2 separate regions of the Homo sapiens genome follow, and region 2 is linked to region 1. The links come from fine-mapping of genetic effects on gene expression. A gene starts in region 1. The other region holds a variant in brackets. All regions are shown on one strand. Distances are from middle to middle. Region 1 holds the start of AP1G2 (adaptor related protein complex 1 subunit gamma 2). Region 2 overlaps ACIN1 (apoptotic chromatin condensation inducer 1).

Region 1 (9,351 bases):
CTTAAGCCAGGGAAGGGGGAAGGCAGAGCACCAGGGAACATTTTAGGCTAGATAGGGTGGAGACATGTGCAGGAAAAACTGATCTCAGTAACTAGAGGATCAGGCAGTGGGAGGAGGTTGGTTGGTCTCCCCAGCAACAGGCCTGGCAATCCCGACTGGCTGCCAGCTGCCATGGAAACAGCAGAGCCTCAGCAGCAGGTGCCTCTGCCAGGTAGCCTGAGCCTGGCCTGAGTCTGATGCCTGAGCACAGACTAAGTCTACTGTGTGGGACTTGATCATCCATACTCTTCATACACAAAAACAGGCCTCATCAGTGCACCAGTTTCAGGCCACCAAAATAACTCAATACAACCCAAGACCATGATCCTCACGCTCACGGCTCAACAGGTGCCCTTGACAGCCCTGTCCACCTTCTCCTTGACTTTGCCCCACTGAAGGGCCAGAGGCAGGAGACTGCACATGTGCCCGCTGTGCACCCTGAGTCCAGCTCAGTTTCAGGACAGGGCTAGTTATATACAATCTGAGAGTCCTAAGACAGAAGAGCCACGTTATCTGAGATCCCTCCAAATAGGCTCTAAAGATCTTTGACCCACCAGGTTTGAGGAGAAGGGGCTAATCACGGCTCCCAAAGAACATAAAGAAGAGGCTATGGACTAAGAATATGCACAGTAGATATCACCATCCTCTTCCCCACCCCCATACCAGACTGCCTTCCTGAGCCAGAGAGAACAGGCCTGTGGCCAGAGGAAGTCATGGGGTGTGATCAATTCAAGCCCATGGCAGCTCGTCGGCCTGCCTTTTCCTCAGCTCTTTTGTGCCCCACCCTCAGAATTACAGAACTCATTTAAGGATGACAAGGCATCTACGATTAACAGCAGAGGGTGAAAGGGAAGAGAAAACTGAGGAAGCATCTGACATCACAGGGAGAACTGAGAAGCAACAGTGGGGAAGGACTGATCAGACTCCCAGGCTGCCTGCACCTAAGGAGCAGGGAAGGTGGTAGGGGGTTGTGGAAGGGAGACTAAGGGTTTAGCCAGAAGTGTAGTTGCAATGGTGAGAAAGCATATTGCATGTTAGTAGGGAGAGGGGATGGGATCATTACCGAAAGGGGAGACCCACTCTCATTCCAGTTCCAGAGCTCAGGAAAGCATGACGGGGGGCAGTGGGGTGGTAGCAGTGACAAGAGGAAGAACAGTGTCATAACAGAAGAGGCTGAAGGAACGCAAGATAGGAAGTTCTCATGCCAGGAAATCTGTACGGGTAGAGGTAGGATTAATAGTAAGGAGAAGTGACAGTAGAAAGAGAAAGGGAGGCAGAGACTGTTAACATAAGGGAGACGGTGGCTCTGAACGAGGGGGCGGGGCAGGGGCGAAGCTGCTTGGAGGGGAGGATCAAGGTACAGGACCCTGTGCTAGACCCCACAGAGAGGCCTGTGACTCCAGGGGGGTGAGAGGGGTTAGTAACAACAGGAGGTGCTAACTGCAAAGAAGGTGGTAGTATAGCTCATAAGCACCAAGCAGGACTGCAGGGGATGTGCTAAAAGAGTGAGGTCTCGACTGTCACTGGGAAGGGGGCAGGATAGGAATGGAATTACACAGTTCCAGGAGGGCCTGGCCCTTGCAACTGGAAGAAGTGTTACTACAGGACGTAGCAGTAGAAGGGTGTGAGAGGAGCAGGAGGGTGTGATGGTGGCAAACACAGCCCAGGTCAGGGGGAGGAAACCAAACGGGAGCTGCCCTGGCCTGCCAGGAAGGGAAGCAGCTGGCAGAGTGTGGCGAAGGGTGACGACTCCAGAGGAGAGGAGGATGTGATGTAGAGGGGACAGGGGCTAGGGGGCTGGAGCATCTGAGCAGGGACTAACTTGAAGTGGGGGAAGTTCTGCTAAATCCCTGTCTCTGGACCCGACAGGGCAGCAGACGCCCTCCTAAAGGCAGTGGCAGCCAGCAGTGTCGCTGAGAAGGCCGTGGAGGCAGCTCGAATGGCCAAACTGATAGCCCAGGACCTGCAGCCCATGCTAGAGGCCCCAGGTGAGGCATGGACAGCTGGGGGGAGGGCAGTGAGGCCCCTAGGGAGCTAGAGAGGCTCAGGTGTGGGGAAACAGATGAGAAGCCCTGCAAGGGAAGTGGGGATGGGAAAAAACAAGGAATGAGGGTGCAAGGAACACAGGGTGGGGGCCAGACCTGGTAGTCTGGGGAGTGGGACTTGGGAATGTATGCAGTAGGATAATGGGGGGTTTGGGGTCTGGCGGTGAGAGGCTATGAGCCTGGGAATTCCAAAGTCCTGGGAAGTGCCCAGTCAGGAATAAAGCTGCAGCCACTCCAGCCCAAGGCCAGTTAGGCCCCTCTGATTCTCAGCTATCCCTACCCAGGCCGCAGACCCAGGCAGGACTCAGAAGGTTCCGACACGGAGCCCCTGGATGAGGACAGCCCTGGGGTATATGAGAACGGACTGACCCCCTCAGAGGGATCCCCTGAACTGCCCAGCAGTCCTGCCTCCTCCCGCCAACCCTGGCGACCCCCTGCCTGCCGGAGCCCACTGCCTCCTGGAGGGGACCAGGGTCCCTTCTCCAGCCCCAAAGCTTGGCCTGAGGAGTGGGGGGGGGCAGGCGCACAGGCAGAGGAACTAGCTGGCTATGAGGCTGAGGATGAGGCTGGGATGCAAGGGCCAGGGCCCAGAGACGGTTCCCCACTCCTCGGAGGCTGCAGCGACAGTTCAGGAAGTCTTCGAGAGGAGGAGGGGGAGGATGAAGAGCCCCTGCCCCCGCTGAGGGCCCCAGCAGGCACGGAGCCTGAGCCCATCGCCATGCTGGTCCTGAGGGGCTCGTCCTCGAGGGGTCCTGATGCTGGGTGCCTGACAGAAGAGCTCGGGGAGCCCGCTGCAACCGAGAGGCCTGCCCAGCCGGTGAGATCCTCTGTCCCTGCTGTGTGCCCTCTTCTCCCAAAGCCTTGCCTCCCACCCTTTCCAGAACTGTCTGATCACCGGGGGGGCTTTTTATCTCACTCGGCTTCCTCTGCCTGGCCAGTCTTGGACCACATCCCACCTCAAAAAAATAGAGGGCGTTCGAGCTGGAAGGAACCTTACACACCTGCAAGCCCAACTCCCTCATTTGACAGATGGGGGAACTGAGGCCCAGAGCACTTAAAGTAACTTGCCCAGGCCGGGCGCGGTGGCTCACGCCTGTAATCCCAACACTTTGGGAGGCCGAAGTGGGCGGATCACGAGGTCAGGAGATCGAGACCATCCTGGCTAATACAGTGAAACCCCGTCTCTACTAAAAATACAAAAAAAATTTAGCCGGGCGTGGTGGCGGGCGCCTGTAGTCCCAGCTACTTGGGAGGCTGAGGCAGGAGAATGGCGTGAACCCGGGAGGCGGAGCCTGCAGTGAGCTGAGATCGCGCCACTGCACTCTAGCCTGGGTGACAGAGCGAGACTCTGTCTCAAAAAAAAAAAAAAAAAAAAAAGTAACTTGCCCAGGGTTGTAAACTAATAATTAATGGGAGAGCCAGAACATTTTTCCCCCGTTCTCCTTCCATATCATTTCCAGCTCTCAGTTTCCTACTCCACCCCCACCCCCACCTCCGCACTTTCTCTCTTTGGTGCCCAGAAATAAAAAAGGAAAAGATTGTTCCCTCCCTACCCTGACTCTCCCTCCCTCTCCCGGGAAGAAGTTGAAATAGAGAAGAAGGCAGAAAACCGGGAGAGGCGGAGTTTGCCCAGAACCCTCTACTCTGATTGGGCTCTAGGCCTTCTGTTTCCTAGCAACCACATCCTCACCCCTTCATCCCTCTGCCTTACTGCAGTACTGGCTGCTGCTGCCAATGTCTGCTACTAAGGCCAGGCACCTCCTGCCTGGGACACATGATATGCTGATGGGAGGGGACTAGAGGGAGGAGGTGGAAGGGCTGTCCCTGCATTGAAGGTGTCAGAGGAAAGGTGGGGCCCTGCCTGGGAGAAGAGGGGGTTTTGCAATCCAAAACAAATGTTGGCGATCCCCCTGCTCCAGGCTGTGCAGGGAGGTGCCTGAGACCCTTCAGCTCTGCCACCTCAGTCAGGGCAGGAAGGTGGGCCCTGTCCTCGGGGACTGAGTCTGCTTCCCCCTCTGTCTCTCTAGGGAGCTGCCAACCCCCTGGTGGTGGGAGCCGTGGCCCTCCTGGACCTCAGCCTGGCATTCCTGTTCTCCCAGCTCCTCACCTGAGGCTACTTCCTGGCCTGGTTCTGGCTTTGGTTGCGTGCCTCTTCACCCCTTTGACCTGCCTTTTTTCTCTTCTCCTCTTCCTGGCTGTGTTTTCTCCTATCTTTCTTTCTCTTCTTCCTTTCTTTTCTGTGCTCCTTTGTTTTTTTCTCTCGCTTTTTCTTTCCCTGTCTTCTTTCAGATTATCTCATTTCTTCTGGATCTGTCTCTGTATTCCTCACTCCCTTCCCCATCCCAACCCCTTCTTTCTCTAGATTGTTTACATATGAAGGGCTTTTCTCTCTCAGAGTTGCTGTCTTCTCTGAGACACACAAATCTAAGTCAGACCATTGCTCCACGCCCTCCCACCTTTTCTTTAGACCTCAACTTCGCTGCGGGTGGGGGTTTGGTGTCCTAAGGAGACTCCTGGAAGCTGAATGGAGAGGAGGAAGAAAATGAAGAAGGAGTGATTGAATGTCGGGCAAGGCACTGGCTGAGCTGCTGTGGCTCCCTAGCCTAAGGGGCCTGCTGTCCCTCTGAGGCCTAGTGAAAAAGCTGCAGGAGGTGCATCCTCCACCTCTAATCTTGGAGGCTATTATCTTACCTCCAAGCACTGAGCTGGGTTACTGCCCAATTCCATCCTTCCCTGAAGGAGAGAAGGGAAGTGAAAAGTAGAGTAACTCCCCAGCATTTCCCTCTTTTTCTCCTCATCGGCCAGCCCCTCCTCCAGCCCCCTCTGGTGGCATGCCATGCCAAGAGCAACGTGTAAAGGAACAGAGAATATCCAATGCAGTCAAGTCCACCCTGCCCAGACTTTGCCACTGACTTCTCCCACCCTTCTGTCTCCCCCATAATAGTTTATTTGGTTGGTCTGGACTCACTTGTGGCCTTTGATTAAATTCCTAAGGGGCCTGAAGAAGACATTTCTACTGCAGAGGGTTAGAGGCACTTGAGCAAGGCCCCCACATCCCAACTCTGGGAGTTGTGGTGGGAGGAGGCACTTCTGGGGGATAGGACCAGACAAGATAACAGGAGCTCACATGGAAGCAGAAGCTGTGACAAGTTTAGTAGTCCCAAAATGGGTTATATCCCTTCCCCCTTTACATCAGAATCTTGTGAAATGGGAAAACAACAGAAGGAGGGGATCAAAGATAGCTGATCTCACATGCTTCCCAGGCAGGGCAGAGGTGGGAGTCAAACCCGGGTGACAGGTGGGTGGAGAGCCCTGTTTGAGGTTGTGGCTGATCCCTCTCTGGTATTAGTTTTTCCCCTGGGAGCAGGAAGCCCTAGGAAGAGGGGACTGCAGGGTCCCCAGGGGATCTTTCCTCCCTCCCCTGCATGAGGCAGAGGCAAGCTGCCTGCCAACCCCCTCCCTCAAGGAATGGCCTTGCCCAGGAATGCCCACCACACATACCCTCTTCTTTTTTTCTAGTCAAACTCTTGTTTATTCCTTGGCTTGCCTCCCTCCTTCCTCCCCTCTCAACCTTTACTTCTGATTTCTATTTCATGGAATTTGGGATTGAAGTTAAACTACAACAGTGCCGCCAACACCAAGTCTTGCAGGAAAAAAATACAAAGAAATTTAACAAAAAAAATATATTAATAAAAAAGTTCAAAAAAGGGGGGGGATTGTCATCTCCTTTGGGGTGCGATGGCTTCAAATCCAAACTGAGGCTCTCCGGGTGGTAAGGATGTGCGAGGAGGCCTCTTGAAGAACTCCAGGCCTATCATGCTGTCTCTCCGCTAAAGCCTGAGGCCCGAGGTCAGAGGATTCAGGAAGGCTCTGCAGTCGGCCCAGGAGGGCGGGGTCCCGTGGTGGAGGCGGGGAGAGGGAAGGACCGCACGGAGCACCAACCCCTGCTCGGCCCCGTACCAGGAAGCGCTGGGGGGCAGAGGAGCGGAGTTGAGGCAGAAGCCAGGTGAGGCTGGAGTCCTGGGGTAGGCAGGCTGTCGCTGCCGCTGCCGCTGCCTGAGATGGAAATCGGGGGAGGAAGCTCGCGGAAGAAACAGCGGAGGGTCGTGGAAAAAAAAGCAATGGCTGAGCTAGGGATGGGGTACCAGGTAGGGGGAGGAAACGGTAGAGAGAAATAGGTGGGGCTCCCGCGCATGCTCAATAGGAAGGGGCGCCGGTGGGGTGCGGACGCATGCGTAGTGGGCTTCTCGGGCGGTGGGGTGGGCGCGGAATTTGGAGACCCACTTCGGGAAAGGTAAAATGCGGGCGCAATTTTAGGGTACCTGTGGGACCCGGGCTCTTAGGGTCTTGACACAGGACGGGCCTGGGCCGAAAGCCCAGGCACGCCCGACCAGAGAGTGTTTCTCCACTCCCGGACTCTGCCAGTCAGGATGGTGGTGCCTTCGCTGAAGCTTCAGGACCTCATCGAAGAGATTCGCGGGGCCAAGACTCAGGCCCAGGAGCGGGAGGTGATCCAAAAGGAGTGTGCCCACATCCGGGCCTCCTTCCGCGACGGGGACCCAGTGCACAGGCACCGGCAGCTGGCCAAACTGCTCTACGTCCACATGTTGGGCTACCCCGCCCACTTTGGACAGGTACTGGCCAGGAATACCTCCCTCCTGAGCTTGATGAAGGCTAGTGGGGCAGAGTCCCAGACTCTCTCACCTGTTTATGCCCTGGTTTTTTAAATTCTACAATTTCAGAGTCTTCACAGCCTGCACTGCAAACCTCTTTCCCCATTGCTACCCCTACTGGTCATCAGCTGGCCTGAACCCTTCATTCTCTGGCCAGCCTCCTTTAGGGCAGGCATCTCCTCCTCTCCGCTCCCATCCTCCTCAACTCCTAGTTCCTCCTACCCACTAACGCCTGAATTTCCTAAGCTTCTCCTCTTGTTGAAGGGAGAGTGATGAGATATGATGCCCCACAGGTTAATCTGGTTTTAAAGAGGAAGATGGAACAGGGATGTGAGTGTCTATGGTTTCACCCCTGCCTCTTCCTGGTCTGCCCCCTTCACTATAGATGGAGTGCCTGAAACTGATCGCCTCCTCCAGATTCACAGACAAGAGGGTGGGCTACCTGGGGGCCATGCTTCTATTGGATGAGAGGCACGATGCCCACCTGCTCATTACCAACAGCATCAAGAAGTGAGAGGGTTCTGGCAATCACTTGGAATCAGGGAGATGGGAGAGTAGGGACCTTGGAAATCCCAGGGGACTGCCTGTTGTGGGTATTGAAAAGGACTGATTTTCTCAGAGGTTTGACTGACCGTCCTCCCAAACCCTGCAGTGACCTGAGCCAGGGGATTCAGCCAGTACAAGGCCTGGCCTTGTGCACTTTGAGCACCATGGGCTCTGCTGAGATGTGCCGAGACCTGGCCCCAGAGGTGGAGAAACTGCTCCTGCAGCCCAGTCCCTACGTGCGCAAGAAGGTGAGATGGCGGGACTCCTGGCACGTGCTCCTGCACACTGCCTGCTGCGTGCTATATAGTAGTAGATGCAGGGGTCCATCTCCTCTGACCCCTGTCTGAGGCCCCTGACCTCTGCAGGCTATTCTGACTGCAGTGCACATGATCCGGAAGGTCCCTGAACTCTCCAGTGTCTTCCTCCCACCCTGTGCCCAACTGCTTCATGAGCGTCACCATGGTAAGGCTGTGGGGCCCCCCATCCTTTGCTTCAGGTCTATGGACAGAAGAATTGAAAATCGGATGGGAACCCCAGCTCACAGGAGAAGGGTAGTGCACACACACAGGCACACACGCAATAGACTCTCTTGCCCCTGGCCCCCACCATTCACTTCCCCGACGCTGACCCCAGGCATCCTGCTGGGCACCATCACGCTGATCACGGAGCTCTGCGAACGAAGCCCTGCAGCCCTCAGGCACTTCCGAAAGGTGGGCTGGTGAAGGGGCAGGCCCTGGGCCTGGAAGACAGGGTCAGTGGGGAAGGAATGGGGCTTTAGCTGGAGAGGATTAGAACGAATGCCCAAAGTTGTGCCCTCCCTCCAGGTGGTACCCCAGCTGGTACACATCCTCCGGACTCTGGTGACAATGGGATACTCCACAGAACACAGCATATCTGGAGTCAGCGACCCCTTCCTGCAGGTGGGGTGACCTTTCACTGCTGTATCCCTGGATCAGAGAGGGCATAGCAGTAAGACCATGACCAGTGGTTTCCTCCCAGAGAACACTGGTTCTCTCAGTGTCCTGGGCAGCAGAGTAGCAGGCACAGGATTGCTCGGGTCATCCCAGGACCTGTGAGGGGAGAGGGAATGCCTAAAAGTCAGGAAAATACAGTTTGTTAACAATTTTTTTTTTAAGCCTGTCCTAAACTCCCCTGGCCTCACACACCTCTGTTCCCCTCCTAGGACCAAGGGACCTGTGGAGGTGAGGAGGTGGGGGAAGGCTCTAGGGAGCGAGCCAGACCCTCACATGTTGGAGTTTTCTCCTCAGCCCCACGACTCCTTATCCTATGAACCCCTCCAACTTTCCATTTTCAACCCAACCTCAGGTCCAGATACTTCGTCTGCTTCGGATCCTGGGCCGGAACCACGAGGAGAGCAGTGAGACCATGAATGACTTGCTGGCCCAGGTGGGGCCTGGGAGGGCACTGGTTAGCTGTGTTGCTTGGAGACCCCATCAGCCCTGGGTGCCCCTCACATGACTCGTCACTGTGCAGTGGCCGTGTAATTGCCTCTCCATCTCCTCTAGACAGTGAACTCCATGAAGAAGGGACACAGTCTGTCTTAGTGCTATTGCCCCAGTGCCCAGGCTGGCCCTGGCACATAGTAGAGCCTCAGGGAACTTTGTTGGATGGTTGAAGGATGGACAGATAACATGTTGGAGTCCTTCAAGAATCCTGAGGATTACCTGGGCTTGTTGGCATGTGCCTGTAGTCCCAGCCACTCAGGAGGCTGAGGCAGGAGGATCATCAGAGCCTGGGAGGTCAAGGCTGCAGTGAGCTTTGGGCGACAGAGTGAGACCCTGTATCAAAAAAAGGAGACCTGAGGAGGGCCTTGAGCAGATACATCTCCTCTCTCATCCACTCAGGTGGCCACTAACACGGACACCAGCCGAAATGCCGGAAATGCGGTCCTGTTTGAGACAGTACTCACCATCATGGATATCCGCTCTGCAGCTGGCCTACGGGTATCACCCCTTATGCCTCTCCCACTACGGCCCCGCCCACCACCTCACCCACACAGGTCCTGCTTGCTGGTTTCTCCCTCCTAG
Region 2 (9,351 bases), 500 kb after region 1:
AAAAAATGGAAAAGACCATTTATGGCCTAACCTTGGTTTTTCTGTCTGTCTCAACAAGAAGTCATATGACTTTAAAAAACAGAGCAGTAAAGTGTTAAAAAAAAAAAAAATTAGACTTCAAGGACCTGTCACCATTTGGAAGAGATTGACTGACTTTTTGCTGTGTTTGGTTAAATCCATTCTGATTCTGATTGTGCCTGAGGAATTCTAAATTTATGAGGTAAGGTGTCTTTTTCATTGCTTGGAGCAGGAATTTGTGGGTCCTCAGTCCTGTTTCAGTTGAGTGCTGTTCAAAACTCTGGTCTTCTGCCTTGTATGGGTATAACAAAAATGTCCCCATATAGCAGAAAATAATGGTATTCTCTTTTTACTTAAAAAAAAAAAAAAAAAAAGGGGAAGAAAGAAAAGAGGGGATTTGTTTGTGTGGGCAGCTGTATCATTCAGCTGTAGTTAATTCAGACCTGGATTTCTCTAGATACAACCTTCCTGTATGCACAGACCTAGCAGGCAATAGCAGTTTTAGGCTCTTGGTACAATGCATGTTTGTCCTTCTGCCTGTGTAGGAGGAAGGTATTGGTTCCTTAAGCCAATATGATGGTGTAATTGATATTCCCCAGGGGACATACAATGCCAATATCCCAAATGATGCATGAAAAAGCAGAATTTGTTGTCATCAATAGAGTTTGCTCCACTGAGAAATTATCTAAGGACATATACCCCAAAATCATACTGTTCTAGGTTATCTTGGGACCAGTATGCTTCTGAGGGTATCTAGTCCCACTGTTTCTTATTAAATTTTCACGTCAGTTTTTCAGCTCCTCGTGAATTTTCTATAATAACTAAAATTTCAGCATATATGCCTATAGGAATTTCCTTTTCCATTAGCTTCTCTGAATCTCATATTCACATATGAGTTGTAATGTGATATTATTAGCCTCCAAGTAGTTGTACCCTTTTCTTCTGGGCTTCTTTGTGTACTGTTTACTTATGGGTAGATATCCCCACTGCTTATTCTGTGCAGTTTCACAGACTGTTAAGCTATGTTGGGCTCTGACACATGGTTAACAAGGTTTTGGTACTAGTCCTGCAAGTAGATAGAGTCCATTTTGGGGACAGTTTCAAGGATTCCTCTTTATCTTTTTTCTTTTTTGGAGACAGAGTCTCACTCTGTCACCCAGGCTGGAGTGCAGTGGCCCGATCTCTGCTCACTGCAACCTCCGCCTCCTGGGTTCAAGCAATTATCATGCCTCAGCCTCCTGAGTATCTGGGACTATAGACGCGGCTGCCACACCCTGCTAATTTTTCTATTTTTAATAGAGATGGGGTTTCACCATGTTGGCCAGGCTGGTCTCAAACTCCTGGCCTCAGGCAGTCCTCCTGTCTCAGCCTCCCAAAGTGTTGGTATTACAGGCGTGAGCCACCATGCCCGGCCCTCATTATTGTCTGAAAATAAAATGTTCGGAATTGTTGGGTCCCACAGAATTGATCATGGGGAAATAGAAAACACACGCCTCTTGTGTCTTAAGAGGGTAAAGGAGAACGTGGTAAGATTCTTATTCTTAAAAAAAAGAAATTTTCGGCCGGGCATGATGGCTCACGCCTGTGATCCCAGCACTTTGGGAGGCCGAGACGCGCGAATCACAAGGTCAGAAGATCGAGACCATCCTAGCTGACACAGTGAAACCCCGTTTCTACTAAAAATACAAAAAATTAGCCGGGTGTAATGGAGGGTGCCTGTAGTCCCAGCTGCTCGGGAGGCTGAGGCAGGAGAATGGTGTGAACCCCGGAGGCGGAGCTTGCAGTGAGCTGAGATTGTGCCACTGCACTCCAGCCTGGGCAACAGAGTGAGACTCCGTCTCAAAAAAAAAAAAAAAAAGGAATTTTCAATAACAAAATTTCTCAAAATCAGCCACTTCTGCAGAGGCATATTAGCAGCTGAGAGTATTTTAGGACAGTGGATAAACAGAGCATTTTATTTGAGGATGGCTGAAGGTAACATTTTCTGTGGTGTAACATTGTTTGTGGGGATTCTATTAAAAAAATTTTTTTCTTTTTTTGAGATGGAGTTTTGCTCTTGTTGCCCAGGCTGGAGTGCAATGGCACGATCTCGGCTCACCACAACCTCTGCATCCTGGGTTCAAGTGATTCTCCTGCCTCAGCCTCCCGAGTAGCTGGGATTACAGGCATGCACCACCACGCCCAGCCAATTTTGTGTTTTTAGTAGAGACAGGGTTTCTCCATGTTGGTCAGGCTGGTGATCCGCCCACCTCAGCCTCCCAAAGTGCTGGGATTACAGGCGTGAGCCACCATGCCCAGCCAAAAAATTTTTTTTTCAATAAGAAAACTTTTAGGTTAGCAAGCATTTAGTAAGTGTCCACTTGGTACCCACAATGACACCCTAATTCAGAAATAGTTAGGGAACATTACTTTGTGTTAGGCCCTGGGCTAGGGGCCAAGAGATGCAATCCCTACCCTTGAGGAATTATGCAGGGTAGAGATGGGGGGCAGATAAAGTAGCAGTTATTATACAGAGTGATAAGGGCATTGCTGAAAACCTGTCATGCCAATCACTGAATGGCTTTGCCTCAGAAAACAAGCAGTCTACTCTTTTGAGGAAACTCAGAGCCCCAGAGGTGGCATCAGATGAGATAATGGCCTATTAAGTGTGCATGTATTTTACATGTATCTGTACCTTCACTTGGGGTGTCCTCCAAGCCAGACTCTTAAGAGCTAACACTTAACTACACTGTTCCATGAAATAGGTATTGTCACTATGCCCACTTTGCAGATTACAAGACAGATATACAGAACCAGGAACTTGCCTACTATCACACAACTTTTAACAGAGTGGGGCTAGCCAGTCTGACTCCAGAGTCTTCACTCTTAACCCTGAGCAGACAGGGACCACTATGTGAAAGGAAACATTTAAAGTAATGTATAAATATGGCCACTTTAGCATGCAGTTGGCATTGTAAGTGTAAGATTTTAAGCAGCGGGGAGAAAATTTCATTCCTAGCTTAAAAGCTCAAATGTTACACGAGACACTGAGCTTTGGTTCTCAGAAGTTTATCTTAGTGTAAACTTCTACTGCCACTAGGACACAAAAGGAACATCTCTGCAGTCAACAAATAAGCATTTTGAGTATCTACTGAGCACTTTTTGAACTATTAGCATCTGTTTCCCACTTTGGTCTAGTGAAGATTCCCATGATTAATATTTTCTGCTTAGTTCCCAGTCGCTTTCTGCCCAGCTGATCTTCCCCGCCCCATATAGCAGCACTCTCACTTCACTGTCTTATCTACTTTAGAGCCTCACCTTGGAGCCCTTGCTTCAAGAAGTGGCCTTCAAGCTTCAGCTACCCAAGGTCCCCTTGCCCTGTTTATCCTTTCTTTTTCTGGCCCGAGTGGACCCTGGGGCAGGGTGACCTTATTAAAGACTCTATAAAACAAAGTTGTCTGTCATCTCTTCAGAGACACCAACCCTGCCCCCCTTCTACTGGTATTTGAAAAAAGAACTCTCCCTGCTATCCACTTCCCTCCACCATCCCTGGGAAAAGGACATGTTGGAGTAGTAACACGTGGTCATTGCCGGGGTGAGCAGCCAGTTACTGTAGTGATTGGATAGTGACAATTCCCATCCCACCTCCCTACCTGCAGCATCTGACTGGTTGGTCTGGTTTCAGTGTTCCATGCCTAGATTACTGGATAGAGGATGGTAGGCACATAAAACATTGCTCATGCCCCACCCTCTATCCAGCTTTCATTACCATCCTTCTTTAATCACTTTTCAACTTTGGCTTTATCGTTCTTATTTAATCCTTTTTCACTCCCACCTCTACTGTTTGCCTGCCTTCTATTCTCTCTATTTTCTAGAATCTTCCAATCAAGCAGCTGTAACTTTACATGTCCTCCACCCAGCCCCCTCCCCTGCCCCCTGGGAAGACCAGGAGGGAGCACTCCAGCCCTGGGGGGTTAAGCCTCTGTAGCTGCTGTAACTTGAGAAAAGAAGGCCAGGCCTCTGGAGCCAGCAGTCGGCTCCCTGTGGCCTGCCAAAGGATAAGAACCTTGCTCACTCAGCTCCCTCCCTCTTTTCTTTCCCCTCCCCTGCTGCAGCAAGGCCCTCCCCCATCCGCACACACAGGCTGCTGGGTAAGTGGCAAGATGGCTCCCCTGCATGTCTCCGGCTGATCGCTGCCGCTCCGCCAATACAATAGAGCCAGCCACTACCAGCAGCCTGGCCCTCTTCCTCCT[T/C]CTCCAGAGAGACCAATCCAGCCGAACTCGGGGTTTGCCGTGAGGACTTAACGCTTATCTCTTAAAAGCCAGATCTGTTTTAGCCTCCCCGCACCACCACCACCTCCCCTTCCATTTACCATTTTTTGGATCCCCGGTTGCTACATCTCAATTTTCTCTCTCTGGATCGGGTGGCTGGGGAGGAGGTGGTGGGATCTTGGAACAAGGAAGGTGTGGTTTTTTTTCTTTATTTTTTTTAGGATTTTTTTTGTTTGGTTTTTGTTATTTCTTCCATTCCAGAAAGGGATAAACAGCACTTCCAGGGGGAGAAAAAAAATCATGTTATCAGAAAGCAAAGAAGGGTGAGAGCTTCACATTTCCATGTATGCCTTTTCCCCGCCGCCCTAGCTCCCTTCGTCTTCCTTCTCTTCCTCATGGCTTTCATTCCGTCTTTCGTTTTGGTTTGTTTTCAGTCATTCTGCCTTCCCCCTTTGTCCTGCCTGCCCAGTTTCTAATTGGCCCCACATGCCCTTTCTGTATGGGAAATAGATATTTTTTTTGTATAAGCCTTTTCTCTAGATGTAAGCAGCTAAATCTCGTGTTTCTCTGGGGGCCTGTTTAGCTGGGGGCACAGTTCCGATTTTCCCCTCCCCCTAACCCCCCTAGTGCATCCCTTCTTGACTGCTCTAGGGAGGTTCTTCTGACCTCTGAGTGTCAGTCAGTCAGCCTGTTGGGAATGCTGACTTTTCTGGTGGTGGTTATCGGCCTGGGAGGCTTGGTTTCCCCTCTCCTGAGCCTTAGGCCTCTGATCATCTTGATTTGATTTTTTTTGCTTGGTGTTTGGGTGGTAGAGGGGGTGAGATTTGAGATAGAAGTTGGGGACGAAGACAGAAATCAAAGGTGGAAAGATAGTTTATCTGAAGTGAATCTCTGGGATTCTTTGCCTGAAATGGGAGCTAACTTGTGAGATTAAGAGTGGGAGAGTGGGTTTGGTGTTCTTGGGGGAAGCTGCCTGTGTGGGGGAGGGTGTGTCCTGACTAGGAGGCCTGCTCTCTTTATCTCTTGGAAGTTGGAATGAGGGAGTGGGAGAAACTGGGTGAAAGCCGAATGTAGGAACAGTTTCTACACCTCTGAGCAGGTAAAAGTGGCCCTAATCTCTGAGCTCTCATACTCAATTCAGCAGTTTTAATTTTTCCTTTTGAATGAGAGAGGGTCCTTGAAGCTTGAACCTTCACCAGGCCTGCTTCTTCCCTGCAGCTCCCACCCCCCGCCCCGCACCCCCCACCCCCCACCATTTTCTCCATGCTGGTGTCTCCAGATCCTGAGGATCAGCAGGCCTTTACTTATTAAGCAGTTGATTAAACACAGGTCAGGCTTTTTTGCCAAAGCCTTGGCCATTCTTTCTTGTCTTTTTAAGGGAATCGGGCTTCCCTTCGTTTCTCGTGCAATTTTGCCATATAAAGGTGCCTTTGGCCAGGGAGACTGAGGCCACAGGGTTGTGGGCAAATCACAGTCACTTTTGTGGGACTATTTTCAGAGGAGGGTTTTTCTCCTTTCATATAGGAGTACTCTGGTGAGTTATTACCTGAGAATAGTTGGAGTCCTAACCCCACAAATGACAACTTTTAACTCATCTGGGCAATAGGTGGATGTGGTTGCTGTGATCCACGCTCTTTCCCCAAGGAAAATCTATTTCCCACTTTTCCCATTGGGACAAGGTCTCTAACCTTGATCAGAAAAGCAGCCCTCCTAATCCCACCCAAGTGATGAGGCAGGAGGGTTTCCTGACCCAGTAACTAACATCTTGCTCTCTCTTCCCCTTGGTTCTTTTCTGCCCGCCCCCCCACCACCACTCCCCCCTCCTGTCAGTGAGGAGAAGGAGGAAGTGACCATGGACACAAGTGAAAACAGACCTGAAAATGATGTTCCAGAACCTCCCATGCCTATTGCAGACCAAGTCAGCAATGATGACCGCCCGGAGGGCAGTGTTGAAGATGAGGAGAAGAAAGAGGTAAACATCCAAGCCACCTATTGGGGCGGGTGGGCAGGAATGGACCTAGGGGAAAGAGTAGAGCACTCTAGTGATCCCTCTTACACGGTGGGTTAACTTAAAGGAGGGATGAGGCAGGGACTTGGATCAGAATAGGGCCAAGGGAGAATTCGCTGGTTTAGCAAGGGAGACCCCTTGTGACGGGGACAGGGCTCATTCATTTTCCTTTCCTTGTTGGGGAAGTAGTGCCCAGACTCTAGACGTTTGTAACTAACGGGAAAGTCTGATAATGGCCCTTTATCTAAGATTTATGTTCAGCTTTTCCTGCTGTCTTCCCAAGCTTCTCCTGGTGGTAACTCCTTTAGCTTTCCCTCCTTTTTAAAAGCCTGATGGAGCCCAACGCCATCTAGTGGACATTGGTGGTTCTCACCAGACCAGCCATGCTGAGAAATTTTTGTTCCTCCTCTGCCCTCCAGTGGTCTGACTGCAGAGATGTAGCTACTTAGAAGCCAGCACTTGTGATCCGGAAGGCCCATTCTCAGTTACCTGTGACCCCTCTACCTCCTTTTTTGGCATATGTTATCTTGTGTCCTGCACCCACTTCAGGGGGCTTCCCCCATCAGAGCCAGCGAAGTCTTCTTGGCTCTTAAAGTAATTGAGAAAGAATGAGCTGGGTTTAGGAGAGGGGTAACAAGGTGGGAGGGACTGTTGTGTGTGTAGCCTTTTTCTGGTGTGTGTTGCGGGGGTGGGGGCCGGTGAAAGTGATTTGATGTGCAGAATATTATTTATTACAAGGTCCTTCTTCCCCGTAAAACTTTGTCCAAGTACCTCATGTACGGTAATCCGCCCGTAAAATATAACCCTGCCCAACTGGCCAATCGCTGATGCCGCCTCTTCCTCTGGACCCACCCGCTGCTACTGAGCTGCCCAATCAGAGCCAAGTCTGCTATCCAGGTGTCTTGGCCAGAGGGGGGCATGTATATGGGCTCCTGTGATGGGCCCCCTTTTGCCTCCCTGTCTTGCTTACATCAGGGGGCCAAGAAGAACACTGTTCTGGAGAGACTTGTATTGAGCAAGCAAAAAACATTTGGAAAGGGGTGGACTTGCATCATCTCCCTACTTGGGACACCCCAAGAAGAGCTTGTGCCAGTGCTGGGGCGCCTGCCCACATGCCCTTGCCCTTTTGAGGACTGTGGGTTGCCTTGTTTGCTACAGACTGTTGGGATCCCCATCTAGGGCACCAAGACCTCCTAAAGTTTGTGATCGCAGTGCCATGCTGTAAAACACTGAGTGGGACCCTCTACTTAAGCTGTGACGACTAGGAACCGTGCAGAGGAGTCTAGGGTCTGAGCCCCTGGGGATTTAATGCTGATGACAGCCCAGCCCATGTGTCACCACTTGCTCATCAGATGGACTTTCCTTTGGTCCCTGTTGTCCATGGTGAAGGGCAGCATGTTGGTTGCTCCAACTTCTCCTCCATCCCTGGAGGCAGGGACTCATTTCATCCACCTGACTGGAACCACTGTCTCAGCTGGAGTCCCTGAGGAGATGCCAGCCACAACTCTCCGAAGAGAAGTATTCTGACCTTGCTGCTGAATGTCTGCCAGGTCCTGGGGTATTCACCTACCCCCAGGCTACCTTCATCAGAGGCTCCATGATCCCACTCGGTGAGAGGACCCCCTCCCCAGTTACAGGCAGAGGAGAAAGGGACTCTGGAGTCATCACCTGGATTCCAAGTATTGGGTGGTGTTATTGCTGCAGCTTGCCACTGGTGGACATAGGGTCCTGCCTGCCTCTCACGATAAAAGGCAAGGATCATTCCTGCTACTCACAGGCCATCTCATCAGGGACTGCAAGATGATGTCCCTTCAGGGCCAGGACTGATGTCTCTGCCCCTTTCCCCCCTCTATCCCTCGCTGAGCCTGGCCACCGCCAGTGAACTGTCTTGACATCATGGAAACTGGGCAGCGTCCCCCCACACGTTTCCCTCCCGCCCCCCCTGCGCCCCTGGGAGGACTCTGGCAGTGCCGTGCTGACTACCACGCCGTGCGCCCACCTTTTTTGCCAACCCAACCCCCCACCAATTGCACAGCGCCTAGCAGGGAGGGCTCATTCTGATTGGACCGGCGGTTGACTAGATACAGTACACAGTGAGGTGCGATTGGCTGAACTGAAGATCCCAGGTGTGAGATGGTACCTGGAACATTTGTCATATTCCTAGTTTATTTTCTTCTTTATTTTCTTCTTCTTTTTTTAATATTTTATTTTATTTTTTTCTATATCTTTATTTTTTCTGATTTCTTTTATTTATTTATTTGGTTCATGTTTTTCCTGTTTTAATTAAGACCTTTTTTTTTGTTTTGTTTTTCTCACTAACTTACCCATCGAGAGCGGCCCAGCTAGGGGTCAGGCTGGCCCTTAACAGAGACCAAGGAGACTTGGTTAGACGACACAAACGGGGCTGCGGGTGGGGGTGGATGGGAAAGGGATTTCATCACGAGGTTTCTGCCCTACCCTTTAGAAGAGTGGTAGAGTGGTCTTAGTTTTTCCAGAAATAAGCACCTACACTTGAAAATACTCTATTCCCTTTTTCTCTCTCACTTTTCTCCCCCGCCCCCCATAGTCTTTCGTCATTCACCCACTGAGTGTTTGGGGTAGAGACTTGTCCCAAAGATGTCTTCTGGTCTTTGGCAGAGCCCCTAAGGCTTGAGCCCTGGTTGGAGAGGAAACAGTAAGACTCTGCTGGAGCTCCCTGCGGTGGCTGGAAAGTCTAAGGATCTCCTTGGGGACAATCTGCCCTTCATAAAAACCTTCCTTTATCAAAGACACCTTTGAGTTCTTTTTGCTAGCACTTGGCTCAAGAGCCTCATCTCCAGTGGGTCTGGTGCTGCCCTTTTCCACAGTGTGGTGGGGGTCTGGGCAGTCTTGACATGACAGTCTGCTGTCCAAGCATCTCAAAGCCATTGTCAGTGGGCATCAGTCTGGCCATTGAAGAAAGGAGGGTTACCTTGTTGAAGTTGCCATCCAAAGTTGGTTTTCCTTGTTTCCTCGAGTTAGCAAGGAAGGACCTGGGAGGACTAGATGACCCAGTTTGGGGCACAGTTTGTTTGGCTTGGTGTCCTCTCGACTCAG

What was found. PIP is the estimated chance that this variant, and not a neighbour inherited with it, causes the effect.
Region 2: its variant is fine-mapped to the expression of AP1G2 in T cells (TOPMed, PIP above 0.99).

The regions. Positions count from the first base shown.
Region 1 is chr14:23,564,478-23,573,828 of GRCh38, reverse strand. It overlaps AP1G2 (adaptor related protein complex 1 subunit gamma 2), which reads left to right and starts at 6,038. Exons shown (of 22, transcript NM_003917.5): 1 at 6,038-6,090; 2 at 6,510-6,718; 3 at 7,143-7,267; 4 at 7,410-7,551; 5 at 7,669-7,765; 6 at 7,937-8,013; 7 at 8,128-8,223; 8 at 8,630-8,710; 9 at 9,169-9,267. The coding sequence starts at 6,515. JPH4 (junctophilin 4) reads left to right here. Exons shown (of 6, transcript NM_001146028.2): 4 at 1,909-2,027; 5 at 2,369-2,901; 6 at 4,112-5,791. The coding sequence ends at 4,195. It overlaps AP1G2-AS1 (AP1G2 antisense RNA 1), which reads right to left. Exons shown (of 4, transcript NR_110555.1): 2 at 8,989-9,102; 3 at 6,407-8,373; 4 at 5,753-6,140. RefSeq lists silencers at 4,847-4,946, 5,936-5,985 and enhancers at 6,466-6,705, 6,736-6,825.
Region 2 is chr14:23,066,365-23,075,715 of GRCh38, reverse strand. It overlaps ACIN1 (apoptotic chromatin condensation inducer 1), which reads left to right. Exons shown (of 19, transcript NM_001386863.1): 9 at 6,099-6,240. Among named protein-coding and RNA genes, the nearest start is that of CDH24, 14 kb to the right of the region's middle. RefSeq lists enhancers at 4,263-4,332, 6,363-6,452, 6,533-6,582, 6,730-7,254. The variant T/C (reference allele first, on the strand shown) is at 4,251.